Homo sapiens: one gene and its partners. The main gene of each other region encodes a partner of the protein of the gene in region 4 in a complex. Each region holds a gene or a part of one and is shown on either strand. Other genes may lie near its edges. A codon is read from its position in the direction of its gene.

The links.
Region 1: the proteins of PPP2CA (region 4) and INTS6 are in contact, whole or in part, in a cryo-EM structure (PDB 8RC4), measured with the Homo sapiens proteins. Residues at the interface, in NP_002706.1 of Homo sapiens: Arg89, His118 (codon at 6,909), Val126 (codon at 6,885), Tyr127 (codon at 6,882), Pro172 (codon at 5,974), Trp200 (codon at 5,402), Pro203 (codon at 5,393), Asp204 (codon at 5,390), Asp205 (codon at 5,387), Arg206 (codon at 5,384), Gly207 (codon at 5,381), Gly208 (codon at 5,378), Trp209 (codon at 5,375), Ile211 (codon at 5,369), Pro213 (codon at 5,363), Arg214 (codon at 5,360), Gly215 (codon at 5,357), Tyr218 (codon at 5,348), His241 (codon at 5,279), Gln242 (codon at 5,276), Leu243 (codon at 5,273), Val244 (codon at 5,270), Met245 (codon at 5,267), Glu246 (codon at 5,264), Tyr248 (codon at 4,128), Asn249 (codon at 4,125), Trp250 (codon at 4,122), Cys251 (codon at 4,119), His252 (codon at 4,116), Arg254 (codon at 4,110); in NP_036273.1 of Homo sapiens: Leu20, Gly21, Thr22, Asp26, Lys29, Gly30, Glu33, Lys78, Asn79, Gln81, Asp575, Glu576, Asp577, His580, Ser581, Val582, Pro583, Ile584, Ala585, Met587, Gly588, Asn589, Tyr590, Tyr593, Leu594, Met626, Met627, Ile628, Asp629, Glu630.
Region 2: the proteins of PPP2CA (region 4) and STRIP1 are in contact, whole or in part, in a cryo-EM structure (PDB 7K36), measured with the Homo sapiens proteins. Residues at the interface, in NP_002706.1 of Homo sapiens: Thr40, Glu42, Ser43, Asn44, Ser171 (codon at 5,977), Pro172 (codon at 5,974), Ser173 (codon at 5,971), Ile174 (codon at 5,968), Asp175 (codon at 5,965), Thr176 (codon at 5,962), Asp178 (codon at 5,956), His179 (codon at 5,953), Arg181 (codon at 5,947), Ala182 (codon at 5,944), Leu183 (codon at 5,941), Asp184 (codon at 5,938), Arg185 (codon at 5,935), Leu186 (codon at 5,932), Gln187 (codon at 5,929), Glu192 (codon at 5,914), Gly193 (codon at 5,423), Pro194 (codon at 5,420), Gly208 (codon at 5,378), Trp209 (codon at 5,375), Gly210 (codon at 5,372), Ile211 (codon at 5,369), Tyr218 (codon at 5,348), Ile224 (codon at 5,330), Thr227 (codon at 5,321), Phe228 (codon at 5,318); in NP_149079.2 of Homo sapiens: Gly421, Leu422, Pro426, Phe436, Lys443, Phe444, Pro460, Arg461, Pro462, Ile463, Glu465, Ser466, Thr469, Leu470, His473, Arg726, Lys730, Met733, Ser737, Tyr740, Gln741, His745, Arg746, Leu747, Asn748, Asp749, Trp751, Ala752, Tyr753.
Region 3: the proteins of PPP2CA (region 4) and PABIR1 are in contact, whole or in part, in a cryo-EM structure (PDB 8SO0), measured with the Homo sapiens proteins. Residues at the interface, in NP_002706.1 of Homo sapiens: Arg89, Gln122 (codon at 6,897), Val126 (codon at 6,885), Tyr127 (codon at 6,882), His191 (codon at 5,917), Trp200 (codon at 5,402), Pro213 (codon at 5,363), Arg214 (codon at 5,360), Gly215 (codon at 5,357), Ala216 (codon at 5,354), Leu243 (codon at 5,273), Met245 (codon at 5,267), Tyr265 (codon at 4,077), Cys266 (codon at 4,074), Arg268 (codon at 4,068), Cys269 (codon at 4,065); in NP_612206.5 of Homo sapiens: Asp95, Leu96, Ile97, Arg99, Glu100, Thr101, His103, Glu104, Arg105, Val107, Gln108, Met111.

Annotation. Positions count from the first base shown.
Region 1 is NC_000013.11:51,359,979-51,367,315, forward strand, and holds the end of INTS6 (integrator complex subunit 6), read right to left. Parts: intron 5,868-7,337; coding exon 5,774-5,867; 3' UTR 4,305-5,773; coding exon of another isoform or gene 4,261-4,304; 3' UTR 2,020-4,260; coding exon of another isoform or gene 1,832-2,019; 3' UTR 1,599-1,831; downstream 1-1,598. Other genes in the region: SERPINE3 (serpin E3 isoform 2 precursor), read left to right, coding at 1,300-1,386, 1,832-2,019. UniProt on the Homo sapiens protein: Component of the integrator complex, a multiprotein complex that terminates RNA polymerase II (Pol II) transcription in the promoter-proximal region of genes.
Region 2 is NC_000001.11:110,030,126-110,040,000, reverse strand, and holds the start of STRIP1 (striatin-interacting protein 1), read right to left. Parts: upstream 5,378-9,875; 5' UTR 5,364-5,377; coding exon 5,184-5,363; intron 4,593-5,183; exon of another isoform or gene 4,562-4,592; intron 2,111-4,561; coding exon 2,041-2,110; intron 1,319-2,040; coding exon 1,244-1,318; intron 830-1,243; coding exon 695-829; intron 607-694; coding exon 486-606; intron 178-485; exon of another isoform or gene 64-177; intron 1-63. UniProt on the Homo sapiens protein: Plays a role in the regulation of cell morphology and cytoskeletal organization. Required in the cortical actin filament dynamics and cell shape. Part of the striatin-interacting phosphatase and kinase (STRIPAK) complexes.
Region 3 is NC_000009.12:68,782,006-68,787,420, reverse strand, and holds the end of PABIR1 (PPP2R1A-PPP2R2A-interacting phosphatase regulator 1), read right to left. Parts: 3' UTR 1,855-5,415; downstream 1-1,854. UniProt on the Homo sapiens protein: Acts as an inhibitor of serine/threonine-protein phosphatase 2A (PP2A) activity. Inhibits PP2A activity by blocking the substrate binding site on PPP2R2A and the active site of PPP2CA.
Region 4 is NC_000005.10:134,195,074-134,202,073, forward strand, and holds part of PPP2CA (serine/threonine-protein phosphatase 2A catalytic subunit alpha isoform), read right to left. Parts: intron 6,949-7,000; coding exon 6,775-6,948; intron 6,002-6,774; coding exon 5,912-6,001; intron 5,435-5,911; exon of another isoform or gene 5,424-5,434; coding exon 5,262-5,423; intron 4,132-5,261; coding exon 4,013-4,131; intron 2,772-4,012; coding exon 2,699-2,771; 3' UTR 1-2,698. UniProt on the Homo sapiens protein: Catalytic subunit of protein phosphatase 2A (PP2A), a serine/threonine phosphatase involved in the regulation of a wide variety of enzymes, signal transduction pathways, and cellular events.

The DNA of each region.
Region 1 (7,337 bases), on a different chromosome or scaffold from region 4:
CTGGCCCTTCCTGTCCCCTTCACTGATGCTGGAAAATAACTGTTCCTTACAGTGAATATAGCCAACTCCCAACATCCTGTGCACATCTTACAAGATGGATGGAATGCCGCATATTCTTTATTTTGGTCTGGTTTTATTCTCTCATGGCATTCATGGGCTATCTCCTGTGTGTGCGTGACAAACACAAACCAATTTAAGCGTTAGTCTAAGATGAAACAAAGCTCCCTCACACAATATGTGTTCATCAAACTGATCATTTTAACATTCATGCCACAGATACCTCCCAGTGGCATGTTGGAGCTGACTAGCATACACTTTCTGAAAGGCGGCAGTGTTTGAATGGAGGAGAGGGGTGGGATGGGAGTGGGCTTTCAATCAGAATATTCTCAACTCTGCTTTTCAAATGTGTGATCTCAGGTGAGTTCACAGCTCACTCTAAAATGAAAGGATTGGACTGAATGATTTCCTAAGTTTCTTCTGGTTCTAAATCTTTCATTTTTTACTGTGTCATCAAGTATCCTTTCATCTTTGGAGCTGTTTAAAAATGGTTAATGATTAGCTTACAAAAATCAGCCAATTCCTCTAAATTATCACTTAGTCCTATTTGCTAAACTTATAATCTGTGAAACTGTTAGCACATAGAACATTTATACTAACCTCTCATTTGCTTTGTAGATTCTAGCCCATGAGGCAAATTAATTGCATAACTGATACACCTAAGTATACAGAATACAGTCATGCAACACTAGACACATTCATATTACTCTGAATTGTGCCTCAATAAAGCCTGTAATAAAAACCTGTGACTTTGTCATTTAAAAGTGGCTCTTAAAGTGCAGTCCAAAAAGGCATTCAAGGGAAATGATCTCTGAAGCTTGGTGAAAATGATTCCCGGGCTACAGAATCTGCATTTTAACACATACCCTATGATCACTGAAGTTTAGGAAATACTGGCTGAAGGAGGGATTGTAGTTTTAACTAGAATCATTTCTGAAAATGAACCACTGAAAAAATGGGGCAGTGCTCTGAATATTATTTTGGGAGCGATTACATATTTTAACAAATTAAATATATATAACAAATTAAAGTTTGGTAACATATTGAGTCTTAAGAATTTTCCAAACAGCTACCTGAGCCTCCAGTAAAAACAAAAACAGAATTTTCCACTCTTTCCCTAGCTACACAGTAAGCAGCATTGGATACTATAAATTTTGTAAGTACATTTTTAAAGAATGTGTTCTAAATGTGTTAGAAAAATGTTAATGAGCAACTCACATTTTTATCATTTTCTGTGGTTAGGCCAAGATGGCTTTTATGTTTCTGAAGCAATCCACAAGGCCAAGATTGAAGTTTTGGAGGAAGGCACCAAGGCATCTGGAGCCACAGGTATGTTCAGAGAATACCCAGTCACACTGCTTACCCATATCTACCTTTCTGAAATTTACCTAGTTGAATCTTCACACTTCTGAATCTTTCCATAACCCCCAAGTTCAGGTGTGGTGTAGTATTTTTTAAAAAGGAACACTAAAGAAAACAAAAAGTTTTTGAAAAATGACGGGGAAGAAGAGATATCCATCCCATAAAAATAATTCTGAAAGTTACCTTCAATAAGGAATTTATTCCATGGAATGTGTTGAAAACAGGAGACAGGATTGGCTAAATGGCATCTTTTCTCTTTAATTTTCCCATCTGCACCCCCATCACAACAGTAAACAATCAAATGCCATTAGGATGCTTTGATTTCTTAAAAAATTAACTTACTTCATAACCAATAGTTATTTTCTTAAAAATGCACAGAAAATGCAATGGAATTTTTCTTTCTTTCCTGCAGCTCTGTTGTTATTGAAAAGGTCTCGGATTCCTATTTTTAAAGCAGATCGGCCATTCATCTATTTCCTGAGAGAACCTAACACAGGTATTACAGTATTTTTTGACAGGATTCAGATAATTTATCAGTGTCTCTCTAGCAACAAGGGCTCATTTGTCCACTATCCCCTCAAAAATAAGCATTCTTTCTAGCTGTTTTTATGGTGCTTCAGAAGCTACCCAGTTGCTATCTTCTATCCTAAGAAAGGGGACTATTTCGTAAGTACAAAGGAAACTTATCCTCCATGTTTTTTACCTTCTCATTCTCTCAGCTCATATATAGTTAATGTAGATTTTTTTTTTTAATGCTATAGGTTTCTACTTCTGAAGACACTTGGAAAAATCATGAAAGTAAAATAAATTATAAATCTTGCCCTTTTTTCCCTTTGTCCCCTAGCTTTCTTATCATTTTAGAGTTTTTTCAGGTCACTAGAGTACACCAGAGTAGTCCTCTTGTGATCCTAGTATTCTAATGAATGCACCTGGATTTCTATACTGTTCTGTTGATCTTTCTCAAAAATCAAATGTTTGCCCTAGTACTTTTAAGTCCTACTACATAACCTTATGGTAATCCAAAGATGGTGTGGTACCGGCAAAGCCTCAGTACATCAGAAGGACACACAAATATTCTTAGGCTTCGACAATATTGAACAAAGTCTTTAGATTATTTCTCTTAATGTTCTTCCTCCCCCACTCACAATTACTTAGCCTAGGAAGGAAAAGAGATTCTCAGTTAAGAGTTGTTGGCAAGTCTAAACAGTGTATTAAAAAGAAATAGGATAGAACAAGACTAATAAAATCAAGCAAAGGTGGATCTACTTTAACTAAACATCAGGCATTACTTTTATTTATGGAGAAAAATGTCAAAAGTTAGAATGAAAATTATGCATAGTTTTACATAAATTGTTAAGGAAATACTGTCAACATCATTTTATCTGAGAATCATTTGCATCCTGCTGTACCTTGTGCTAGAAATCAAAGGAACATTTTTGTGACGAGAAAGATATAAACCATTCACTAGAAAATAATCTATTTGGGATTATTTGGAGAGAAAAAGTCCATCAACAGAGTATGTCTTCCTAGTATTTCACCATGATCATCCCAACCACATAACGATTAGATGAAAATATCACTTATCACCCAGAACAGGCGGCAGAGAGCCTTCTCTTAGAAAGGACACGTCAAAAAAATGAAAGATGAGAAAAAGGACAGGTTCTACTCCCTAAGGAAACAAAGAGACAGGACTACATTTGAACAGAAAGGTCATTGCCAAAAGCCAATAGCCAATAAAGGTTGATAGGTAAAAGAGAGATTCTGATTTTGGAATTCAAGTGCATAAAAATGATGTAAAATCCTTAAACAAGGAAAAGACACACCACTATTTCAATGGTAGGAGTTTTCAGAACTGCCTCAGTAATCAGAATGAAAATATAAGGATAATCCAAAACCAGTTCCACAATCCACTGGAATTCTAATAGTCCTTGTGACTTTACCTCTATCTGGGAGGCATTAGCCTACATCACACAACACAGTGGCTGCTCTTCTGGTGATGGTTATGGAAGAGTTTAGAAATGAGTCTCAGCCTTCATTATTTCCAACTGACAAATCTTACTAAGAGCAACTAATGAATCAATCAGCAAATGAGAAACATGGGAGACATTAAAAAAAAAGATTTGAAAACCTCAAGATTAAACTTTCCAAGAATATCATTTGTCGAGCCTTAAGTCATTCAGTGACATAAAGGGCCTAAAAGACATGATGTTTCCCCTAGATGTATTTCCCTTCCCCTTTGACAATAATTCTACAACAAGTATTCTAATTTAACTAATATACCCATTTTTTTTTTAAATGAAAAAAGCCTGAGGGAGATGAGATATTAACCTTTAGTTCTGATAGGTTTCAAACCCTCCTGACCAGGTTTTAGGATGAGGTGAGAACAGTGGCAGAGAGATAAAGGACAAAAAGAAGAGATGAACAAAACTGCTACTTCTCACCTCCCTCCAGGGTTCATTCAGAAAAATGTATTAAAGGTCATGAGCAATCTGTGAAACAGAAAATAAAACTTTCTGATAAGGAAAGCTGCTCAATATTGGGATGGGCTGAATCTCTTTCCTAGATACTCTTGTTAAGTATGAATTTTTATCTGAATGACTTCTAATTCCTCCTAGTAATTCCAGAATCTAAATATATATAATTTAGGAACAGACAATATATTCTGGATTTTGTGTAACTCTCAATGAATTTAGCAATGTGACTACAGGCAATTACCTTAACAATTCCATCTATTAAATGTTATCTTGCATTACTTAAAAGTATTTGTATAGAAGTAAACAAAGCTTAAAGAACTGCATATGAAAATACTATATAATATTAAATTCTTCTTTTTCTTGACAGGGTTTGTCTTCAGTATTGGGAGAGTTTCAAATCCCCTAGACTAAATGCATGTTCTCCACTTTCATCAATGCTTTTCTTCATAAAGTTATAATTTCATTTTGCTATACCCTTGAAATTTAAAAAAATGTCTGATAAAGTGTAAAAAGCTAAGGGTATGTGATTTTCAATATTATAAACCTAAAAATACTTCAGTTTTTAAATGTTATAAGTTTATTTTGCCTACTCTTAATCCAAATCTATTTTGACCTTCTTTTCTACTGCTTACCCCCCAAACCACTAAAAGGCACAGCAGTGATCATGAATGGTGAGTGAGTCAGGCCATAAGATTGCTTCCTCAGTACGGATACTCTAGGCCATGTTGAATTGAGGGTGGAGAATGAATAGCGTGGTTTTCCTTATCCTGTGAAACTCAGGGGGGATGCAAAATGAGCAAAGTCATCTTAAAGGTGTTTCCTTTCCATTTAGCTTATAAATAAAACAGAGTTTAAGTGTGAGAACAGCAGAGCAGAACAAGGAGGCCTCCAATTTGTTGTGGGCTTTTGCAAGCATGGCATGAAGCTGCTAAAGGCTAGATATTTCAGAGCATGTACTGTACTCCAAACCTACCACTCCCTAACAGCTTCAGCTTCGTGCCATCCACAATCCTAGTGATAAAGGAAAAGGTGTTGAAGTAAGGAAACCAATAATATCCAAAGTTGTTTGCTTTTTAAATAGCTTTTAAAGTATCTGTCTATCTGCCCCATACAAAGTCATTCCCATAATCTAGGCAGAAATGGGAGTATGTTGGCATGGCCAACAAAAACTACGAACATATAGTAAAAAGGCAATGCAGATTATGTAACATGTAATTACAGTTAGGCTTAACAAACATGAACTTCAAGTGGTGTATTTTTCCAATGCTAAAAAGCAAGGCCTTTAAAATTCCATTATCTTAGGATGTTTTTAAATGATTACTTTAAATGTGATTATTTCCTAAACCACACAAGAGTAAAATAGAGCATTTATTGATGGAATAACAAAAGTGCTTTTCTTAAATATTCTTCAAAATACATTTGTACAACTTACAATAATATATCCAAAATAACTGTATATACAAAACATTACCTAGTTTTAATGTATGTGCTTTTTTCCCCAAAAATTACAAAGTAACTTCTTTTTTTTTTGGCAAAGTTCAACCTTAACAGAGGTGACAATTTTAAAGGTTGGTTTAAGAAAATAGAACCTGAGGGAAATTGACACGCAAGAGTCAATGACAAGCAAGAGATTTGGAGGAATATTTTTAGTTTGTTAAATTAAAAATGTTTTTTAGAGTGATACTTTTCACATTACAAAAATAAACCAAAATGAAGAAAAGGTCACTGTAAAATGATGGAAAAAGGATCTGTAGATTTGCTTTTAGTATTTCAAATAGCCAACAATGCATGTCAGAAAATGAATGCAAGATCACAACAGTCTTGTATTTACTTTGTATTTGAAGAAGATAGTGAAATAAGTGGCCACATTCTATTTTCTTTTAATTGCTATTAATATGGTTGATCTGATTGGCTCTTCGATGAATTTCATCCAAGAAGTTCTCCAGTTGTTCTATTAGCATTCGTTTTTTAAACCTGTATGAAAAAATAAATAGTACTCTCAATTACTTTTTAATGAATAGTATATATCAGTATAATTTTTTTAAGAAAGGAGAGAAAATTTTGGGAAGATTTTTCAAAGTGAAATGAAAATAGAAAAATCAATACTACGACAATATAAAATATGTTGAAAGATTAGCAAATTATTATCCTAGTACAGTATTATAGTTTGTCCCTAAAACACTCTAGGGCTAAACAATGGGAAAGAGGTTGTTCCTTCCACAACCGAAAAGAAAAAGGAAAAAACAAACAAAAAAACAAAAAACTAATATATTCAAAATATATTCAAGGGCTGCAAACACTCTAGTGAAATTTGGGCTCCCCAAGCAAATACTTCAATAGCTTCTTCTCATGCTCTTTGTAAGCTGAATATTGAAAGGAATGTGAACAAAGTATGAATATAATCTCCCACAAAATGGAAGAAGAAATGAAAATTGGTCAGCAGCATTTAAAAACCATGGTATTCTATTACAATTTGAGAGCTAGCAAATCAAGGATAGACATCTATAATACAGAGTATAGCAAGCAGTTAAAGTTCAAGTAACAACTTTTAAAGATTTTCAGTAACAAATATGGACAGACTAAAATTGCATCTGTATACGTAACTGCTGACGGTTTTAAGAATATCCCAAGACACTGGACATTTTATTCCTACTTCCTTGCTACTTAGAAGCTAATATAAATAGCCACCATAATACTACACAACTCTCTAAAAGGTGGCAGAAGTGAAGTACAGATACCGGGGATATAAATTCCTAATGAGGTTTTAGCTGACAGAATGTTACCATAAAGAGCATAATAGGTTAAATACTCAAAATTACATGAAAAGTTATAGCCTTATCTTGATCCTGCAAACTGGCCTATGCTCTAGCCACTCCAAAAGTACAAAAAGAAAAGAAAACCAGAAACAAAACCAACTTTATCTAAAATCTTCATGTGTAGCATAGAAGAGACAGGGGGACAAAGTATAAGTGTGTTTACATTTAGAAGGTGGGATGTGATAAGCCCCAAGTTTTCTTATAATACTAAAATCCCCAAAATCTTGAAGGGAAAATAAAAAATGTTTTTAAACTCATACAACTATGTTTTCCAGTTAATTGCACTTCTTAATTACCATTTATAACCTTTATCCACCTTCTTTACACAGTGATCCCTCGGTATGGATGGGGGATTTATTCTAGGCCTCCCTATGAACACTAAAATCCACGAATGCTCAAGTCCCTTGTATAAAATGGCCCAATATTTGCATGTAACCTATGTACATTCTCCCATATGCTCTAAATAATCTCTACATTATTTATAATACTAATACAGTGTAAATACGATATGAATTAGACTGAATTATTTAGAAAATGACAAGAAAAAAAAAGCCTGTACATATTCAATACAGATACAACCATCCATTTCCCCGCCTCCAAATACTTTCAATCTGTGGTTGCTTGAATC
Region 2 (9,875 bases), on a different chromosome or scaffold from region 4:
CACTCAATGAGCTGTCTTAGCTTTATCATTGATGGTGTTATCCTTAGATGAGCAGCAGCTGACCTGTCCACTGGACAAAGGTGACACAGGCAAGGCCAGGCACTGGTTGAGCCCATATGTCAGTCTTGTGCCTGGCCTCCTGCCAAGGCGGAAACTGCAGGGCGAACACAGCAGTGTCTGCAGGTTCAAAAGAGAGCTCAAAGTGAAGAGTCTCCTTCTGAGGAGCACCCCAGGCCTGGGCAGGGCCTGCACTGTCTGGTGTAAAAACTCTGGCATCAGGGAGCTGCAGGGACCTGTCATTAGTCTCCATTAATCTTCAAGGTGTAAGTGACCAACTCCGTTATTCAACCCAGGTGGTCAGAACACAGCCTGGGACCAGAACTTCTGCCCCATTTAACCCTCTCAAAGCCAGTTAGTTCTGCAAGCTCTGTCCCCCTTCCCATCCCAGCCTCCCCTTCCCTACTCAGCCTCTCAAAAATGCTCACTCTATTTCCATGTTCAGAAGCTCCACCAAAGCATTGAACGTGCCCACCTCCAGGAGGAGAAAGATGTTGTAGCGCATCCAGGACTGCACCTCTGCCTCCGAGCTGCACTCCCCAAACGTGCCTGCAATGCAGGGTTCAACTCACTGAGCCCCTCCCTGCATCTGAGTGGGCAGAGGTGCCAGGGAACCCTGGGGAGGTCCACTCAATACCTTGAGCAACATAGAGAATTGCTCGAGCCACCTTGAGTCTCTTCTCCCTGGCAGTGACTTCCAAGCCATCCAGGAGCCTCATGGCATGGGTCCGGTGCTGGTTGGTATCCAGCTCAGTCCACTTCTTGTCTGTCACTGCAGGGCAAGAAACCAGTTACACCTGAGCCTAGAAAAATCCTCACAATGGCATGGACCCATGTTAACTCACCAAATTCAGGACTGCCATAGGACCAGAAAGATAAGTTACACCCTATGTAAGTGGTAAGATCATACTGCTGCTCTATGAATTTGATTCCAAACTGAAACGCTGGTATTTTGGGTGCAATTTTAATCACATGATTTTTTTTTCTCCCCTAATATGCACATTCTGAAAAGCCCCCACCGATGTGCCACAAGCCCACTCTACATGTATCTGGCTTTGAACCATCAGGGTTCAGCAGGCTTCTCAGGCTGTTCCAGGATGACTCAGGTCATTCAGATGCCTAAAAGAAACCTGCAGCTCTCGTTATGCAGGGCAAAGGAAGCAAGAAGTGTGGGAAATCATCTCACCATGGATCCGGAAGTCCTCCTCAAAGCATTTTCGATTCATCAGGAATTCTGGCCCTTCCGTGTAGCTGTAAAGCTCTGTCAGAACAAAGTCTCGTCACCATTGGTTCCATGTCTGCATTGCACACCAGGTCTCACAAGTGCAGAGAAGGCAAGGCATTTGCTTCCACTCTCAACTCTGCCCCTGAGTCATAGTGACTCCTGGAATAAGCTCTCTAATTATGAAGGGGATCTTAGTGCTCTGATGTGCACAATAGAGACAACCAGAGTGCCAGAATGCCATCTGGACACTTCCAGTCCGATGTGCATCCATCCCACCATGCCATGCCAGGGCTGACGGCCACCTGGGATGCATCTCTCAAATGGCTGCTACCTCTTGAGCAGGATGTGTATTGTAGAGGCTGGAGAAGCAGCTCACACCGACCTCGCATTACATGAGAGTGGCAGTGGCAGCAGCAGATGGGCACAGATGCAGGCATCCCTCATGACCCATTGCTGGAGGAGAGACCACTGTCAGGGTCACAGTGGATAGCCAAGGAACATCACTGTCTCACAATGGGACTGGGCTCTAGCCAGCTTCATAAAAGTAAAGGACAACACAAAGTTATAAGATACACAAGGCTTGAATCAAATAACATGTTTTATACATATATATATATATATATATATATATATATATATATATATATTTGATAGAACTAGGGAAAGCAATGAAGCCCTAAATGATATTCATTATTAATTTTATTAAAGACCAATAAGGAAAAAACCACCCCCAAATAACACAAAGGTCTGTGCGTTACCCGAGAGCTCTGCAGCCCACTTGTCTGTGTCAGCATACTCAAACTCCAGGTCTGGTGACTCCGAATAGCCCTGCTGACAAGAGGAGAGAGCTTTAGGAAAAAGGATCATTCTATTTATCAAAGAAACTCATGCTTCGAGATGCTGTTGTGTTACAGGACACCACTGCCTCCACTTTTTTATGTTTTTTCACATTTTGTTTCCTAAAACCTCTCAGAGTATCCTATACTTTTCCTTCAGAGCATTTATCATAACTTATCATTATAGGATGTGTTTACTGTCTGCCTTTCCACAAGACTGTAAGTTCCCTGAGAACAAGAACATCATCCATTTAACTTACCAATGATTTCACAAGGTCCAGCATGGTACCTGGCATGAATAAGTGAATGAATGAATGGTCTATACACACATATTTGTTAAATGAATAAATACAAGGTTTCTATGTATTTTGTGCAGTAAATGACCATTCCATATGATGCTATGATTCCAGAAGTCTTAACTTCTTTCTGGCTAGTGGACTGTCAACAGCTCAGGACAAAAATGAGTATTGAAACCCTCAGCTTTCCCACCTTTGTCTCAAATTTCAGTGAGAACTGACAAAGAAGGCAGCCGCCAAACAGATCAACTTCCCTCCCACACATAAGAGAAAATGTGACAAAGACAATCTTTTTCCTGCTGGAAATAGGTGATTACTGAGAACACACCATCTTGGAAGCCTTGTACTGGGAAGAGAGAAGTGAGAAACAAATAGGTAAAGTCCTTAGGTTTAATTACAGTCTACCTGGGAAGACAAAGACCAGCCACAAAATGACACAACATACCCACAATGGCCAGGCGAGGTGGCTCATGCCTATAATCCCAGCACTTTGGGAGGCCGAGGTGGGCGGGTCATTTGAGGTCAGGACTTTGAAACCAGCCTGGCCAACATGGTAAAACCCCGTCTCTAATAAAAATATAAAATTTTTTAAAAATATATTTTTACATGGTGGGGCGTGCCTGTAGTCCCAGCTACTCGGGAGGCTAAGGCAGGAGAATCGCTTGAGCCCCGGAAGTGGAGGTTGCAGTGAGCCAAGATCGCGCCACTACACTCCAGCTTGGGAGACAGACAGAGACTCTGTCTCAAAACAAAACAAAACAAAACAAAAAACATACCCACAAACAAGAACTCCACGTTGTGTTCAGAGATAACACAGTGTACACTTTCACAAGTTACTGAGCTTCGGTTTCTTCATTCATTGAATGGCAATGATGAAAATCTACTTTGAAGATTTTTAAGGACTAATCAAAATTATGTAGTACATAGTGGGCTCTCATCAAATGTGAGCCTCCCTGTCCTCCAGGCATTCACTGATCAGGCTCCCAAACTACCGATTTCAGCTATGACTAAAGAAAGATCATGGCATCAGACTCTCTATAAAGAAATGGATTTAGACAGGTCTCTGCTTAAATGTGTCCATTTGACTGGTCTTTCATGTAATGAGTCTATGAGGAAATTTTTTTTTTTGAGACGGGGAGAGTTTCGCTCTTGTCACCCAGGCTGGAGTGCAATGGTGCAATCTCGGCTCACTGCAAATCTCCACCTCCCAGGTTCAAGCAATTCTCCTGTCTCAGGCTCCTGAGTAGCTGGGATTACAGGCACCAGCCACCACGCCCGGCTAATTTTTGTATTTTTAGTAGAGACAGGGTTTGATCACATTGGCCAGGCTGGACAGGAACTCCTGACCTCAGGTGATCCGCCCGCCTCGGCCTCCCCAAGTGCTGGGATTACAGGCGTGAGCCACTGCACCCGGCCTCTATGTGGAAATTAAAGGGTACAAAGAGAAATTACAATTCGTCAGAGGGTATCTATTTGACCATTCGTAGCTACTCTGGAAAATTTTAAACCATTTTTCAAAATGATAACTCCTCTCATGATGAAGGTAGGTTCACCCCCCTGCACTTTCGTAATCTTCCACTTGAAAAACTGAGTAGTTAACACTGATGTCCGTCATCCCACCATGCCAGGGCTCCTAAATGGTCAGTGTTTTTGTTTTTTTCAAATAATTCACTCCAAGCTCAAATTACGTCTACTTCGGGCTTGCCAATTGTTGACATGTTTTCTCAGGGGTTTAGCCTTGCTAACAAAAAATAAAAGCTTCTGAGGAACTGATTCCACAGGTCTAAAGGTAGTATCATTGCTCTTTGGTATGAATTGGTACATTATGCTTGGACAACTAGGAATTCCCTCTCATTAACTTGGCTGATCAGTTTGGCTGCTGATCAATCTAGGAGATGGCATAGTAAGTGCTCTGGGAACCTGCTCATTAAGAAGCCCTAAAACTCCGCGACATGAGTATCTTCATTCATGAATTCTGCAAAAGGAGGCAGTGGGAGGAATTCCTTAACTTGGGGTGAGGTTACTAGTCAGTTCCAGACTATGCCATCTCCAGAACGGCAGGAACGGCTCACTAGCGAGACAGGAAGGAATGTTGGGTCCTAACGCATGCTTAAAATGTCTATTTCTCATCTTTAACAGTTCAGTATCAGGCGCACTGGGCACAATAGCCCACCACAGGTACTGTTAACCCATGGCCTGATCTGGCTCAGGTCAGAAGAACAGGACATGTTTCCCCCTCCTACTCTACTCTCAATGATAATTAGCTCGGTCCGGCTCTAAGTTCCTTCCAGATCCTCGCCGGCGCCTTCCCTGCCCACACGCGCCTTCCTCTGCGAGCGGCAGGACCCAGGAGCTGGAGCCCGCGTGCCAGGGACAGACGCCCGAGATGATTAGGTTGGGGGCGCGGCAGCCCAGCGCCCTGGAGTGCACCAAGACCCCCGACTCCTCACCCCCGAGCTGGGGCGAGAGCGGCTTCCCCAGGGGCTAGGGCCTCGAGGCCACGCCCACAGTCGGGGCCCAGGGGAGCAAACCAGCAGTCGCCGGCCACGGGAAGCTCTCCCGGGCGGCGGAGCTAGAGCAAGGACTCATGCTCCAGACCCCAGGAGCTGCCAGCCTCGCTTCCTGCTCCTTTCGCTGTATAGTGACAGTTCTCGGCCGGACTCTACCGAGCCCTCCGGGAAGCCCAACCTGGCCCCTAGAGTGGCCCCGGGCCCGGGACCCCCGGCGCCGCCCGACCCGGTGCGAGCCTCGCCCCCCGAAGCTCCTGACCTCTGAGTCTTTGCGCTGGTTGCGGTTGAACTCGCGGGCTTTGCCCCCAGGCAGGAGGCCCGCGGCGGCCCGCGGTGCCCCGGGTGGTGGCTGTGCGGCTGCCGGCGGCGGAGGTGGCGGGGGCTGGGGCTGTTTGTTGTTCACGATCAGTGGGCCCGGACCGCCGACTGCCGGCTCCATCTTGGCTGCTCCACACCCCCAGCTTAACTCGCGCACAGCCGCCGTGATGCAACTCTCGCGTGATTTTCTCCAGGAAATTTCCCTGGCCGCCATATTAAGTGTGGCGGCCAGTGTTAGAAGCCATCTTGGCTGACCAATACCTCGCGATATTCTGTCTGCAGTCCTTCCCTTGTTGATCTTTTTAGTTTTCCACCTTCCTTTCAGTTTCAGTTTAGATGTAATTTTATCTGTGAGGCTTCCCTTAGCTTCTTCAGTCAGTTTAGTTACCCCTCCTTCCTCTAAATCGCTTTGCACTTATAACTCATAGCCTTGTTCAAGGCTTAGGCGGAATTTTGTAATGAACAAAATGGATAGGATCCTAGTCTTCACAGAGTTACCGTTGTGACAAGTGCTTGTCATTCATTCATTCAACAAACATTTAATAAATGTCTCCTGTGCACCAAGCAGTGGGATAAAATGAGGAACAAGTGTCTGCAGTCACGGTACATAACAGTGCTTGGTGGGTCAGACAAACAATAGACAAATATAGAGAAATAAATGCTGAAAAGTGTTAAAGGAAAATTTGTTCATGGCACTAATTAAAGATGGTAAGGCAGACTTTATGTAAGAGAGCCCATGGTGATAGTTACAGGGACCACTACAACCAGATCTTGCAGTGAAGAAGAGGAATTAGACTCAACTCTGACTCCAACAAGATATAGTGGGGATTTATAACCAAAGAGCAGGATGAGGGTCAGTGGACGGAAAACTACTAAGAGAAACATCAAGGATAAGAAGTTTCTTGCTAAACTGACCTAACAGGATTATTGCTGAAAGCAGGACAGGGTGCTAAGATGTTGAGGGTGGTCAGATACCGAGTGCTATGGTTTGACTGTGTCCCCCAAATTCCATACGTTGGAAACTCAATCCTAAAGTTCATATGTTGATGGTATTTGGAGGTGGAGCCTTGAGGGGGTGATTAGGATTAGATAAAATCGTCAGGGTAGGGCCCCTGTGATGGGACTGGTGGCTTTATAAGAAGAGGAAGAGTGATCTGAGCTGGCACACATGCTCTTGCTTTCTCACCGTGAGAGGCTCTCTACCATGCAGTTTAAGAAAGCCCTCACCAAATGCAACCCCTCGACTTTGGGCTCCCCAGACTCCAGAACTGCAAAAAATAACTTTCTTTCCTTTATGAATTACCCAGTGTTTTGTATTCTGTTATAGCAACAAAAAATGGATTAAGACGCCAAGAGTGGAGAGTCCCTGCACAAACTGGATTCAACAAGGACAGAAAGGAAGCCCAAACGGTTAGTCCTAGTAGGCAGAGGACTCACAGGAGCCTGACTAGAGTTTTGGCCAAAGAAGAGAATCTTTGTCAGAAGTAACAAAAATTGAGAGGTTAAAAGGTGGCAGTGGGGCGGGGGGCAGGGGTTGGTGGAGGCGGAGAATGTGGCTATAATATAAGCATGCTGCCCAAGGAAGGCAGGCCTGAGGGTGTGATTTTAGATGAGTTCTGAAAGAAGTGAGGAGAAGCCCTGCAAAGTTCCAGGAAGGGCACACAGACAGATGAAACAGCTAAATGCAAAAGCCCTGATGTTAGTGTCTGGAATTGAGTGAGCCAAGGGAGGGATAGTAATTGATAGAGCCATATAATGATAATGCAGGGACCAGAAGAATGCAGGGCCTTGAAGGTAGTGGGAAGGAGTTTGAATTTTATTCTAAGTGAAATGGAAAACCATTCGAGGGTGTTAACCAGGGAGATGTTATGGTGTGATGTTTACAAGTTCAATCTGGCTGCTTTTGGAGAAGGGATTGGAGAGTTGCAAGAGTGGATAAGGCAAGACATGTTAGGGGACCATGTAGATGGAGATGATGGTGCTTGTACCAGAGTGGAGCATTGGGTTGATATTTCTATATTGTGTAGGTAGGGGGACAGGATTTGCTGGAATCTTATCAGCTGGGTAGGGGAAATAAACAATGACCCCCTTGATCTAGGTTTGGGCAACTGAGTGGATGGCTGTATCACTTTCATAAATAAGTAAGCTCGAGAGTAAGAAAAACAGGTTTAGAGGAAAGATCAAGACTTCAGTTTTGGACACATCAAGTTTGAGATACTCATCAGACATCTTAGAAGTGTTGCGTAATAATAACTCTTACTATTATCTGTTGTTATACTGTGAAATCCTTAAAGGCATTTTATCCATCTTTGTCTCTCCAGCTTTACATATTGCCTGCTTTACACCCCAGGCTCAAGTCCAGAAAGTCCCTGTGATACAACTCTCCAGTGATTTCCCCTGAGGTCCAACCTAGTAGGTGCTTAAAAAGTCTTTGTTGTAAATTAATAAATTAATCCAAAACCACCACACTGCTATTTCCTCCTACCTATCTTCCTGTGCCTATCATAAGCTGTATCACCCGGGGAAAAACATTTTTCAGCTAAATTTAGAACAGGGAGGGTTTTGGTTCCATAATTCCACTTCTAGTAATAGATTCTAAGGAAATAATCAGATTTAGATAAAGATAGGTGTATGATAATATTCAGGCAATGGTGTTTTCAATAGTGTAAAGTTGGGATCAACCTAATTTGAAAAATAGCCAATAAGAAAATGGCTAACTTTGAGGGGCCAGGCACCGTGGCTCATGCCTGTAATCTCAGCACTTTGGGAAGTTGAGGTGGGAGGATCGTTTGAGCCCAGGAATTTGAGACCAGCCTGGGCAACAGAGCGAGACCCTATCTCTAAAAAAAAAAAAAAAAATCAAATTAAAAAAATTTTTGAAAAAGAAAAATGGCTAACTAATGGAATGGGGCATGCATAAGACAGAATATACAGATCTAGAAGGAAAAAGAATCCCAAATGTGAAGGAGCAGAAGCACAGCTGGAGAGCTCACTACTCTAACTTGCTAGGAAACTTTGCGAAAAGCACAATCCAGTAGAGAGTAGAAGCTGTAGAAGTGTCTTCATGCACTTCTCTTTTTTTTTTCCTTCCCCATCTGTAAAATGAGAATAATCCCACCTGTATTTTTGTCAGAGATGTGTGAACCACAGCAACTCCATCTTGAACAGGGGCTGGGTAAAATGAGGCTGAGACCTACTGGGCTGCATTCCCAGGATATTAGAGCATTCTTAGTCACAGGATGAGATACGAGGTCAGCACAAGATACAGGTCATAAAGAACCTGCTGACAAAACAGTTTGCAGTAAAGAAGCCAGCCCAAACCCACCAAAATCAATATGGTGATGAGAGTGACCTCTTGTCCTCCTCACTTTTACACTCCCACCAGCACCATGACAGTTTACAAATGCCATGGCAACACCAGAATGTTATCCCAGATGGTCTAAAAGGGGGAGGCATGAATAATCCACCCGTTGTTTAGCATATAATCAAGAAATAAGCATAAAAATGGGCAACCAGCAGCCCTCGGAGCTGCTCTGCCTGTGGAGCAGCCATTCTTTTATACCTTCACTTTCATAATAAACTTACTTTCACTTTACCCTATGGACTTGCTCTGAATTCTTTCTTGTGAGAGATCTAAGAGCCCTCTCTTGGGGTCTGGATTGAGACCCTTTCCTGTAACATTTTCAGCCATGGTGGCATGCGCCTGTAATCCCAGCTACTCAGGGGGCTGAGGCAGGAAAATCGCTTGAACCTGGGAGGCAGAGGCTGCAGTGAGCCGAGACTGCACCATTGCACTCCAACCTGGGTGACAGAGGAAGACTCTGTCTCCAAAAAAAAAAAAAAAAAAAAGAAAGAAAGAAAGAAAGAAAGAGAAAAGAGAAAACTATAAAGCATTGTTTGTTTTGTTTGTTGGTTTGTTTTTTTAAAAAAAGGAGAATTATTACCAAGAGGTGATACCCAAGGTGAGAAGCCCTTCCTTCACCACGAGCAGTCATTGTTCAAGAGACTGGAGGAAGAAATTTCCTATTTGAGCCATTCTAGTATTGCAGGAGTTGCAAGAACATAGTGGCTGCTCCAGTTGGGCTCTGTAGAAGGAAACTGGCATGTATTCTGTGCCTACAGGGTGTCAGGTACTGGGTAAGATGTTTCACATTCATTGATACCTAAGTATATGCTGGGATGCAGAGTGAGCCTGTTTCTAGCAATTTCCATCCTAGCCCTGGACTGTAAATACATTGCTGGTCACTGAAATGCTCAGTATTAAAGTAATCTGTATAGCATATAAAACATCTGTGGGTCCAGTCTTACCCTCTAGTTACTGTGTCACATGGAGTTCTCTCCATTAATGGTTATGAGAAGAGGATAATATTAATAATGTTTTGGTTAATTAACTAATAGGGCAGATAACTAATAGTTAATTCTGTCTTCCAAAGGGACCAGCCAGCTTCACTCTGTCTCAGGTCAGATTAACTTATAAAATCTCAGCTTTCTTATATAAACATGAATTAGTCAAAAGACTAAGTCAAAGCTGGTCATGGTAGCTCATTCCTGTAATCATAGCGCTTTGGTAGGCCAAAGTGGAGGGATCACTTGAGATCAGGAGTTTAAGACCAGCCTGGGCAACATAGTGAGA
Region 3 (5,415 bases), on a different chromosome or scaffold from region 4:
TATAAAAAACACTTGTACTTCTACAAAAGGACTGGAGACTTCTTAAATTCGAGTCCACTATTGACATGAAAACCCTAGTAGAATCATATTTTCCCTCGAAGACTGTGATGATATCAGACTAGTTTTCAGACACTGCCTGTTGCTGGCCTTTAGCACTTGGGTCTCATCGTCAGTGAGAAGGTGGCCTGCCTTCTTTCCATGGTGGCTGCCTAAAATGCTTCCTTCCCTAACCCAACTCAATTCTACTCACTTCCCTTTACAGAATTCACCAGCCTTTTTCCTATTACCTGATCCTTCCACAGGATTTTCTAAAAAGTAGGAGAGTTTCAATCCCATAACCGCAAAAGTAGGAGAGAAGCCAATCCCATAACCGCAGTGCAGCCAGAGGTTGCGTGTCATGGTATTGGAGAGGGCCGACTCATTTTCCATGAAGGTAGACATGGCTGTGAGTGATCTCACATCTGCATTTGTCCATGCGGGGGTGGTACTGAATCCCAACCTTCCGGTTGGAAACTCTTCCATCAATCGCCTTAAGAGAATGGTTACCGTGGAGGGTATGGTTGCTCCGTGAAGCTGCTTGGTAAGTGGTCATTTCCTCATAGACTTTTGTTTTGTACTCTACTCTACCATGTATTTACAACAGTTAGCTACCAGTCCCTTTTCGTTCTAAAACAAAAAATTTCCCCTAAATCTTTGAATAAAATTAATGCTATAGGGAAAAAATACATAAAGCTGTGGAACCATGATTTCCTTCTATACACTTTAATTTCTTGCCTATTACTAAAAAAAAAACTTCCTGGTATGTTCCTTTAATATAATACTGTTTTAAGGAATGATTACCTATCATTTGATTCAAAACAGAAGTAGCAGCACTAGTAAAATAAAGCAAGTTGCTAAAGTTAGCTGGGAAATGGTCTTCAAGTTAATAATAAAAAAAAGTTTATAATAATAATAATAAAAAAACCAAAAGGGCCTAAATTCAAAAGGAAAAAAAATAGACAGTAATAGGGACTTGAGAAAATGGCCTTGGTTTTCTCATCTCTTCAATGGGAATCCATAGCACCTGCCTCACAGGGTTGTCATGAGGATTTTAAACACTCATAAATGTAAAGCACTAAAAATAGTGTCTGGACCCATAGTGAATGCTCAAGAAATATTAACACATCATTATTATTATTACTGGCAAAAACTCACGTTATCAGGCCATTTATCACTTCCTACCCAGGAAGGCAAATGGTCATAAGGGAATCACAATCTGGTGAAAATCTTGGCTGCCACGCAATGATAGCCTTATTTCACAGACAGCATACTGAAGACACAGCTCAAGATTTCTAAAATCTGGAAGGAAGAAGTAGTCATTAGAGAAGGATCAGTATTTCTGATTTCTAGAAGGGGGCTATCACCTATAAAAAGAAGAATAAGGCTTGTTTTGCATTTGCCAAAGGTGGACTTGAATTGAATGGTGGAAGTTAGAGGGAAATGTCTGTTCACTATAAGAAAGGCTAACATCAGAAACAATCGCTTCATAAAAGGATAGCCTGCTTTGAAGGATATTGTACTGTTAACTGAGTGTGAAAGCAGGAGTTTCATCCATCAAGGATGCTAATTGCCCAGCATCTTTGTAAGCACATTGTGTACGAACCCATTCAATCCTCACCACAGCCACCCTGCTCCACTGTCTATATTCCTAACCACCACAATTCGCTGCCTACCTCCCAGCTCTGGAATCCTGGGCAAGTAACTCAACCTGTGTCTCCATTTCCTCATTTATAAAATGAGGATAATGATAGCACTTGCCTCAGATGATAGTGATAGATTAAATGCATTGATATATTTGCTTAGCACTTAGAACAGTCCCTGACACATAGCAAGTATTTTATTACTTTTTATACAAAGGTCATTTCAACTTTTAAGAAAATTTTTTTACTTGGATGGCAAGTTACAGAAGCCACAAAGAACTCTGTCTTGGCTACAGTGAGCAATCTGACACAATTTTTTACCAAGTAAGTGGCACTCAAGGCTTGCCTTCAGCCCTGATTCTCTAACAGCCATGAAAAATGTGGGCAAAACTGCTGGAGTGAGAGACCTACATTGAGACCAGATTCTCTATACTTTGTCATGGCTGATAAGGTAAAGCCCTGAAAAAAGTGGTCTAGTCCATAAGCCTCTGCTCCCTTCTCTTATCCTCAATGCCTCAGCCAATCATTCAAACTACACTTTCAGCAGAACCCTTAACTACTTCACACACTGGGCTTTACCTAGTACCCACTTAACCAATTCCCAAACCTAGTCAATCCAACCCACTTCCTTGTGCCTGCCATCCAACTGCAACCTGGCATCCATCATAGCCTAATAAGCCTTCTACTTGTCCTTAACTTACTCCTTTAGATTCTCAGAGGCAACATTAAACCTTTACTGCACTCAAGCTTCCAAATGATCTCCTGTCCCTATCCTCATGTATCTTAGATTCCTCAATAATTGGAAAATAGGCACAATCAGAAACAAATTCTACTTTTCATATACCTACCTCCATACTCCTAAACCCCTGCAACAACAAATCAATTCAACATTTATGGATATCTTTGCCTAGCCTTTTCACTCTCCCTCCTGTTTCAGAAGAAAAATAAGTTTCCAGACCTCCTTTCCAAGGCCAACTCTTTCTTCTGTTCTCTGGTGCTACTCAAGAAATGATCATCATCTTCTTGGTTCAATTGTCTGGCAACCATTCCCCTGACTCCCACCTCTGTTAGATCTTCAAAATTGTTCTACTAATCTATAAACACACCCTGAAAAAAAATGTTCTCAGACTCACTTTCCTCATTTAAGTCTTGATTCCTTCCCCAATTTTATTGCCAAATAAACTGGTCTCTTGCTACAGGTATGTAACTGGTTGAACTAATAAATGTGAATCACTGGAAGGCAATCTGATACAAGTTATTCTTGATTACAATCAATCTTTTAAGTATGCTTAAGGGTCCTAACATCCAGCAGCCTTGGAGTTAATGATCTTTAATGATTTCTCCCATTTATACTGTGTTTTTAACAAGCATAATAAAGGAAAATATACCAGAGGTTTATTAAGTATGACAAACTGTACTTTAAATAAATGTTGCTATTGACTTTAGGACTTCTTGCACAAAGTTTATAGATTAGCAATACTAATACCTTAAAAATGCTTTTTGAAGGATAATTCTTACACGAGCTAAGTAAGCCCTTACAGTCTACAGAATAATGATGGACGTTATGAACAATACTATGATAACGTAAATTGTCCACATGCCCTTAGAACCTTATCTGATTTAAAAACTTCCCATCTATATAGAAGAATAAGCTTACAGAAATAATGTTTCCATACCTTCGGGGAAAAGGATCTAAAATAGGAGAGAACATGATGTATTTAAGGAAAAGAAAGGCAAGCCAGTGAGGGCGAAGCACAGAAAACGAGGGGGGAGGAGGGAAGGACCAAATTCCTCAGGGCCTCCTAGCCCAGAATTAATACATTTTGGCATACTCATGAGAACAGGAAGCAAATGAAAAGCGTTCAGCTGGGAGATGGAAGGATCAGGTCCGCAATTTTAAAAGAATGACTCTAGTTGCTGTATGGAGAATGAATGGATAGCCGACCAGAGTGAGTGTGAGGAGCACAAGTGGGAGTTAGGAAGTTGCTTCAGAAGCCTAAGAGGGAAATGCTGGTAGCCTGGATCAGAGTGGCAATAGAGGTAGAAATAAGGAGATAGATTCTAGCTGATAAAAATCAGTAAGACTTGAGGAATGATTAGATATGGGGAAAAGTAAAGAAGAGAGGTGTCAATGACATGTTGGTTTCCTGCATTTATATACATATATACATGGAAATGCCAGTAACACATCTTGTACAATAGATATCAAGTTGTTAACAGAAGTTATCTGTGGAAAGGGAAGATGAATTTTACATAATTAAAAGCAGACTTTTAAAACCACACAGATATGTACAATGTTTAAATATTTTACAATCAGCAGGTATACATTGCCTTCATACTTAAACTCACGTGCAATTTGCCTCCCTGAAAAGGATAGGAATTATCCCAAAGAACAGACACAAGAAAAGTACATGACATATTTAAAGAATATCAAGTGGTCTAATGTTTGCAGAATAAGAAGGAAAGATGTATACTGGAACAGAGATGAGGAGAGGATTGAAGCTATTTCAGAATATGGCCAGATCATAAAGGTCCTTCTATCTGAGGCTAAAGAAATCATTCCTTAAAGAGTAGGAAATGGGGAAGCAAGTGAAGTTTTCAAGCAAGAGGGCGAAAAATATCAAGTTTAAATTTCAGAAAGATTACTCAAGAGGCAGTATAAAGACTGAACCAAAAGGAGACAGAAGACAGGCTGGGAGATCACTCAGGCAAGAACTTAAGGCAAAATCAGGGGCAACAGATAGAGAAGGGAAGAAATTTGAGATTCATTTCAGAAGTTGACAGGACTTGGTGATTAAGCTAATCCAACAGAGAAAAGGAAAAGTCAAAGATGCTTCCATAGTTTCTAGTTTAGGAAATCAGTGATGACATCAATTGAGCTAATGCAAGAACAGGTGAAGTGAGAAGATTAACAATTCCTGTGTTGAAGATAATGAAGTTCAAATACCTCTGGAGGCAGGGCAAGTTACCCAACAAGAAGTCAGGCTATTTAAGTTTGAATTTCAACAACAGGGTCGAGAATGGGAGCACATGAACACTATTACTCAGAAGAGAGAATTTTAAACCTGTGGACACAGTCTTACCCTCGATGCAATTTCACTCCATCTTGAGGCAACTGTCAAGAGTTGACCAGTTCCATTTACTCTCATAGTTGTAAAAATTCCACAAAATTGTTAAAGTCTCTGTAAGCGATAACTTTAAACAGTCAGAGCTTTTGTCTTGTTCTGAGTCATTTTTCCCCTTTCCTCTTTGTATGCCATTCTTTCTGTCAAACTATCTAGTTAAGGAAGATATGTGAGGTATAAGGATGCATAATATAAAAAAATTTTTGCTATTCTTATTAAACATTTTGTCTTAATTGTAAAGGTAAAGAAAAGAACATTCGACTATTCTAACTTTAGGAAAACCTAAGTTAAATAATGATTTACCTATGTGACTCTCCACTAATTTTCTCTTGCAAATCATCACCCCTTAATTAACTGACATCCCCAAGGCAGTCAACTCAAGCTGTAGCTTTAACCACAGAGGTTAAACAATTCACAGTCCTGTTGTTGCTGTCAGAAACCCAAGTTACACTGTACCTTTGTCTAATCAATGGTGCCCTAGTTTGGTGGGAGATGGAGAGGAAGGGACCTGTTGGCAAGGAAACAGCTGCTTCCTTCCTGAACAAGGGAAAACCAGTAAGGTGACAGATGGGCAGAGCAGAAAAGTAGCCAAAAATTGCTGTGGCTCCTGT
Region 4 (7,000 bases):
ATTGACAAACTTCTATTTAAGAAATACCGACTACAACCAACAAATGTTTAATATGCAGCAAATGAAAAAATCATGTCTAGGATACTCAACCCAAGACATGAGCACATCATGTACAAATTCATTGTAAACTTACAAAATAAGTTTCAAAATTTCTGCAAGCCCTCACTATACAAACTCAGAATCCTCTTTATTTTTGAGACAGGGTCTGGCTCTGTCACCCAGACTGGAGTACAGTGGCACAATCTCAGCCCACTGCAACCTCCATCTCCTGGGCTCAGGCGATCCTCTCACCTCAGCCTCCCAAGTAGCTGGGACTATGGTATGCCACCAAGCCCGGCTGATTTTCATATTTTTTGTAGAGATGGGGTTTTGCCATGTTGGCCAGGCTGCTCTTCAACTCCTGACCTCAAGGGATCCACCCACCCTGGTCTCCCAAAGTGCTGGGATTACAGGCATGAGCCACTGTGCCAGGCCTGTTCTTAGGGAAAGCTTTTTAGGTTTATTAATGAAAATCCTAATGTTACTAATTGAGACATCAGTTAACACCCAACTTAGTGATTCCCATCCAACCATAATTATGTATTTTTCAAGAAAATACATAATTTACTAACACATTTTCCTTACCATAGCCATTTTCAAAAGAAGGTAGGGTACTAACACTTTCCAGTTTAGATGGCCAAAGCCCGGTCAGTCTCTATAATTAAACAATTATTTTAAACCCTAGTTATGCTAAAACCAAGCTATTCTTATCACAAGTCCCATTCTGCTAACCACAAAATTTAGAGAATTTGTACCTGGAAGATACCACCACGTGTCAATTACAATATACGTATTCCTTGGTCAATTCTGATATCACAGGACCGGAAAAAATAGCTGCTTGGTGTCTAGATTGTTTGGGTATTAAAACCACTGCACATGGATAAGCTATTTGTTCAGTCGGAGAGAAAGGGCATAGAGTGACAGAGCAACAAAAAGACACACAGAGAATGTATTTCTTGTGAAAGAAAAGAATGAAATGAAATGAAATGTAGAAACCCTAATGGCCTTTTGCTTTGGAAAATTAACTCCACAAGCCACTAAAAATACTATCAATTAGATCAGAAAAGACATTCGGTATGTATGTGTTCCTCAAGCATTTTAGAAAGGGGATATGCTATAACTTCCCTGTTGGTTCCAGATTCAACACAGCACAAAGCAAGAAAACTTTTATTTACTACACTCACAAGTATGATTAAGTGTTCCTGTTTACTCTGGTAGGTTAAAATATCAAATATTAGTTCCCACAGAAGAACTTTTTTTTAAACATCTAATCCTATTCGAAGGATAAAAGGGGAAAAACTCATTAAATGTTGAACACTGCCACTTTAAGTACCATTTTTGTCTTCGGGTGAATGTACATAAGACTAAATCATGATCCAACAATAGTTTTCTATTTGGTTTCACTAGTATCACTCAAAGAACTTGACACAGGCTAATGCTTTAACACTTTCTTATCTGAGACAAATTTAACTCTAAGAACATATGACTCAACAATGTACAAAGATTTAAGAATTTGCCAATCTGTCAATCATTTTAAAGAGTCCATATAATATACACATAGCAATATAATATTCATAACCAGAAACTGCACTAAGTAAACACATCATTTAGTTTAAGCTCTACCTGAAAACATGCTGTTTTATTAAAACAAAACCCAAAGACTTAAATCTCAAGTTATATGGTTTTACAATTAAGTCTTACTGAAGCAGCACAGATTTCCTTTCTTACAAACAAGTTAATATGCAGGAAGAACCCACAAAGTGCACACCAACAATGTGACAAATTGTAATATGTGAAATACAAATAAATCCTGAAGTTAATCTGAAGAATGTCAAGGAGTTACCAGAGAGGTTATGTAGTGCCCTTGATTTTTATTTTACCTACAAGTCTACAAATTCTAAAATTTACTCAATTGATTTAACTTTTTTAATAAACAGCACCAGTCTTGCCCATTGATACAATTAAAATTTGACCTTCTCAGTTCTTAGTTCACAAGTTTATTATGAAAAACACTGCAGTGCTCTTGTGCAGTCACATCGTCTTACAGGAAGGGGAAAAAACAGTTCTGTTCAAAACAACTCACCAGGTTCTGACAATAACAAAGAACAACATGGGGCTGAGATTTGAGTAGGGAATAAACTGAGTGCAGACAAATCATATAATTAAATTAAACGGTATCCCTGAAAATAAAAAGAACAATTTCAAAACTCACAAGTAGAAGGGAGGCCTTGGTAATTATTTTTAAAAATGTTCATTAAGCTCCAATGATTGTTTGCTGCTATCCTTATCTACAGTCATGCTGAGTAAAGCTATAGCTAAATGGAAGTTAAATTGTATTCACGAGGTGTTAATGTTTACATCTTATTATCTGCAGTCTCTCAGAGAAAGCAAAAGTAACTACAAATAGCGCTATGCCAGAAACTGGTTTCTTGACCAACAATGTCGCTTCAGCATGCAATGAACTGGTTCATTCTAAAGTGGTCACGGCTGTTGATGACAAGAGGCTTTGTATTTTTATATGGCACATCTTTTGGTCCATGTGAAAACAAGTTTTTTGAATGTTAACTATTTTCTGACACTTTGGAGTTACTGTTGCTCTTCCCATTTCCATTAGGTCGATATATGGTTCATGGCAATACTGTACAAGTTTAAAATTTCATTACAGGAAGTAGTCTGGGGTACGACGAGTAACATGTGGCTCGCCTCTACGAGGTGCTGGGTCAAACTGCAAGCTGAAAAACAAGACCGATTCATGGTTTATGTTCCACGACCTCCATGTAGTGACAATCAAGATCAAGAACATGAGTCTTCCAAACTTTACACTTCCTATTCAATTTTGGCTTGTCTTAATGTAACAGAACCTTAATGATAATGGTCTGTTAACTGTACTCCCCTTGAAAGAGTCAAGGCAACTTCAGCCACAGAGACTATGCTTTTATAAAAACATGGTTTTTACCTTGACTGAAATTTCAAACAAAACAAAACAAAACATGGTTGGCCGGGCGCAGTGGCTCACGCCTGTAATCCCAGCACTTTGGGAGGCTGAGGCGGGCGGATCACGAGGTCAGGAGATCAAGACCATCCTGGCTACCACGGTGAAACCCCATATCTACTAAAAAAATACAAAAAAATTAGCCGGGCGTGGTGGCAGACGCCTGTAATCCCAGCTACTCGGGAGGCTGAGGCAGGAGAATGGTGTGAACCCGGGAGGCAGAGCTTGCAGTCAGCCAAGATCGCACCACTGCACTCCAGCCTGGGTGACAGAGTGAGACTCCGTCTCAAAAAACAAACAAACAACAAAAAAACACAAAACATGGTTTTAAAAGTGAAAAACCTAGTAATTCATACGAAGATCTATATATAATAAGTTCCTGTTGGTGTGTTTCAATGTAGATCCATTAAAAAAAAAACAAAACTTAAAAATAAAAGTTGGAATCTGACATAGCATAATCCCTTAATAAACACTTTTTTGAGACGAAGTCTCGCTCTGTTGCCCAGGCTGGAACGCAGTGGCGCGATCTTGGCTCACTGCAACCTCTGCCTCCCGGATTCATGCCATTCTCCTGCCTCAGCCTCCTGAGTAGCTGGGATTACAGGCAGGCGCCACCATGCTGGGCTAATTTTTGTATTTTTAGTAGAGAAGGGGTTTCACCATGTTGGTCAGGCTTGTCTCGAACTCCTGATCTCAGGTGATCCACCCGAGCCTTCCAAAGTACTGGGATTACAGGCATGAGCCACCGCGCCTGGCCCCCTTAAACTCTTAAACCTCACATTTAAACTATGTATTCAGGCTGGGCACTGTATCTTATACTTGTAACCCCAACACTCTAGGAGGCCAAGGTGAAAGGATCACTTCAGCCTAGGAGTTCGAGACAAGACTGGGCAATATAGTGACACCCTCTCTCTCAAAATAAATAAACCAAAACCCTACATATTCAGTAATGCAAGAAAATGTTCAGGTAGAATTACTTACAAAGAGTATTTTAGAGTATCGTCAAGTTCCATGATTGCAGCTTGGTTACCACAACGATAACAATAGTTTGGAGCACTGAAAATCGTTACTACATTCCGGTCATGGCACCAGTTATATCCCTGCAAGGAAAAGGAGACAAAAATCTTACTTTACTCCCTCAATTCAACTAAATGTTACTTCACTCAAGAGAGAAAAAAATCTCTACTCATTCCCACCCCTGCCAAAGGGGCTTAAGAAATGTTAATGCTTTTTTTCTGGATGACTTAATAATCTCCTGTACTTTATACAACCTGTAAGGTACACATGTATTTATTTTCCCCCTAATTACAAAACTTGTTTTTTTTTTAGTACTTTAAAAAAAAAAAGGCTTTAACAAACAGCAGCAACCACCAAAGAATGAAATACTTCTCATGTATCTGCCTTGCTGTAAATGACAATGTCTCATTAGCCTCTTCTCTTGCAGTGGCCTTAAAACATGATTTAAGAATAAGTATTTAAGTGGCCATTCCCTAGAGAAGTAGATACTTAATCCTGGAGACCAGAACCTTACCAATTTTGTCAGTCACAGGTAAAGGCCTGTTAAGTTGGTCACTGCCCAGGAACAAATGCAATATGCCTCTAGGATCTCCAGCCTCATTTCCTCAAAGTCCATCCACCTGAATGCATGAGCTACTTTTGTTACTTTTTGTTTAGTATTGTTCACAATTTCTTTACCTTTAGCAAAGTCAGATTTTATTGATAACCACAGAGTTGTACTAGTATTAATCTAATTAGGACCTTATTTTAAAAATATTCTAATCAGTGTGCCATGTCAAGAACCTTTGCCTCTTTCCCTTCTTTCAAATCACCTGTAATCCTAGCATCCAAAGGACCACTTAAAACATTTTCGTGTATTTCTTTCCAGTCTCTCCTACATACATACATTAAATATACGAAATAACATTGGGATCATAAAATATCATACATGCACACCAACTCCCTATATCTTACTTTCCCACTCTTAAATCTCAAGTACTTCCTAGTCATTCAGATTTCTCTGAAAACATGTTAATGGATTCATTGTAATCAAAAGCTTGAGCTTTTAATTCTAGTAGTGTGCATCTACTGAAAAGGCTCAGGCTATAATGATAAACTCATCAGAAGGAATAGATGGAATTTCTCACAAATGTCATTAATTTAAAACTCCCTAATATCTTCTTTCCTTAAGTTTACTAAAAAAACAAGTCATATTTCAGAGAACACAGCATACCTCCATCACTAGCTGGTGAGCTCTAGACACCAACGTGAGGCCATTGGCATGATTAAATGTCTCAGAAATATCTTGCCCAAAGGTGTAACCAGCTCCTCGAGGAGATATACCCCAACCACCACGGTCATCTGGATCTGACCACAGCAAGTCACACATTGGACCCTAAAAAATAACTTCAAGTTATAAAATGCCTTTTACAAACATGGTTAACACATTATTTGAGTAATTCATCAGAAGCAGCACCCTAAGCCACCCTTTTTGAGTGATGTTTGTGGACAATGCTAATAGACTGTGCAGTTGAAGTCAAACATCTGCATCAAATAAGATGTATTTTCCAGCAGACTTTATGAGACACAGCTGACATCCATGGGACCCAGCAGCAACATGCCCTAATTAATCTGCCTATATTATGCAAATTTCAGAGTCTAAGACAGACAACCCAGGTCCTAATAAGCCCAGCTTCACAGCTGTTGTGATCTTGGCAGGTTTCTTAATGTCAGCTTCTTTTGAACAACAGGGCAGACAAGAGTGCTCACACCTCAAGTTGTTTTTGAGAATTATATGAGAGAATACATCTAATGAACTTACAATTAAACTTCTCCACTCCCTAATAAGTTTTCTGAAAGAATTTTATCAAATAAAAGTCATACCTCATGGGGAACTTCTTGTAGGCGATCAAGTGCTCTGATATGATCCAGTGTATCTATAGATGGCGAGAGACCACCATGTAGACAGAAGATCTGAAAAGAGTGGTTTAAAAGGTTAACCTCACCTAAAAAATTTGTAAACATTCTTGGCTGGGCACAGTGGCTCATGCCTGTAACCCCAGCACTTTGGGAAGCTGAGGCAGGAGGGCTGCTTGAGGCCAGGAGTTTGAGACCAACCTGAGCAACACAGCAAGACCCTGTGTCTCTACAAAAATTTTAAAAAATGAGCTGGGCACCCCCATCACTTGGCCCCTCTGGTGTTTCTGTGCTCTGCCTGAATGAGACTTGACTTTGCAGGGTTCATCTTTGCTCCAGCCCACTCTGAACTATTGAGTACACTCCTGTTCTTCCTAATAGACCATCGCTGTCACAACCAGACTCCACTTCAAACAGCTCCTTTGAGAAAACTTCTTGGATATCACTCCTGCCCTTTGCCAGAGACTAGTATCTTCATACTCATAAAATTTTATTGTAAGTTCTTTTGTGTGCACATCTACCTAGGCCAATAATTAGCTCCTTACATCTCCCAGACTTGTCCAAAAACAGTCTGAGAGGGTAAATGGGCTACATCACCCACCCCTGTGATCCCACCATACAGTTCAGTGCCTGATATAAAGAATAATGCACTTAAAAAAGTTGGACACATTTGTCAAATTAAATTTTTTTTAAGTTTGAATGAATGCTATCAATATCTATTAAAAAATATCCCCAAAGGGGTGTTAAGAGTGGAAAGAGTCATAAGCACCTGAACACTAAAGAAAGCAGATTCTCTGAAATAATCAGCAATGAGTTTTAGATCCACATACCTGCCCATCCACCAAGGCAGTGAGAGGAAGATAGTCAAAAAGATCTGTAAAATATTTCCAAACATTTGCATTTCCATATTTTCTTAAACATTCATCATAGAAACCATAAACTTGTGTGATCTGTCTGCTCTCATGATTCCCTCGAAGAATGGTGATGCGTTCACGGTAACGAACCTAAAACAATAAAATGCAAAACATAAACAACTAGCTCTTTCAAAAACCAATG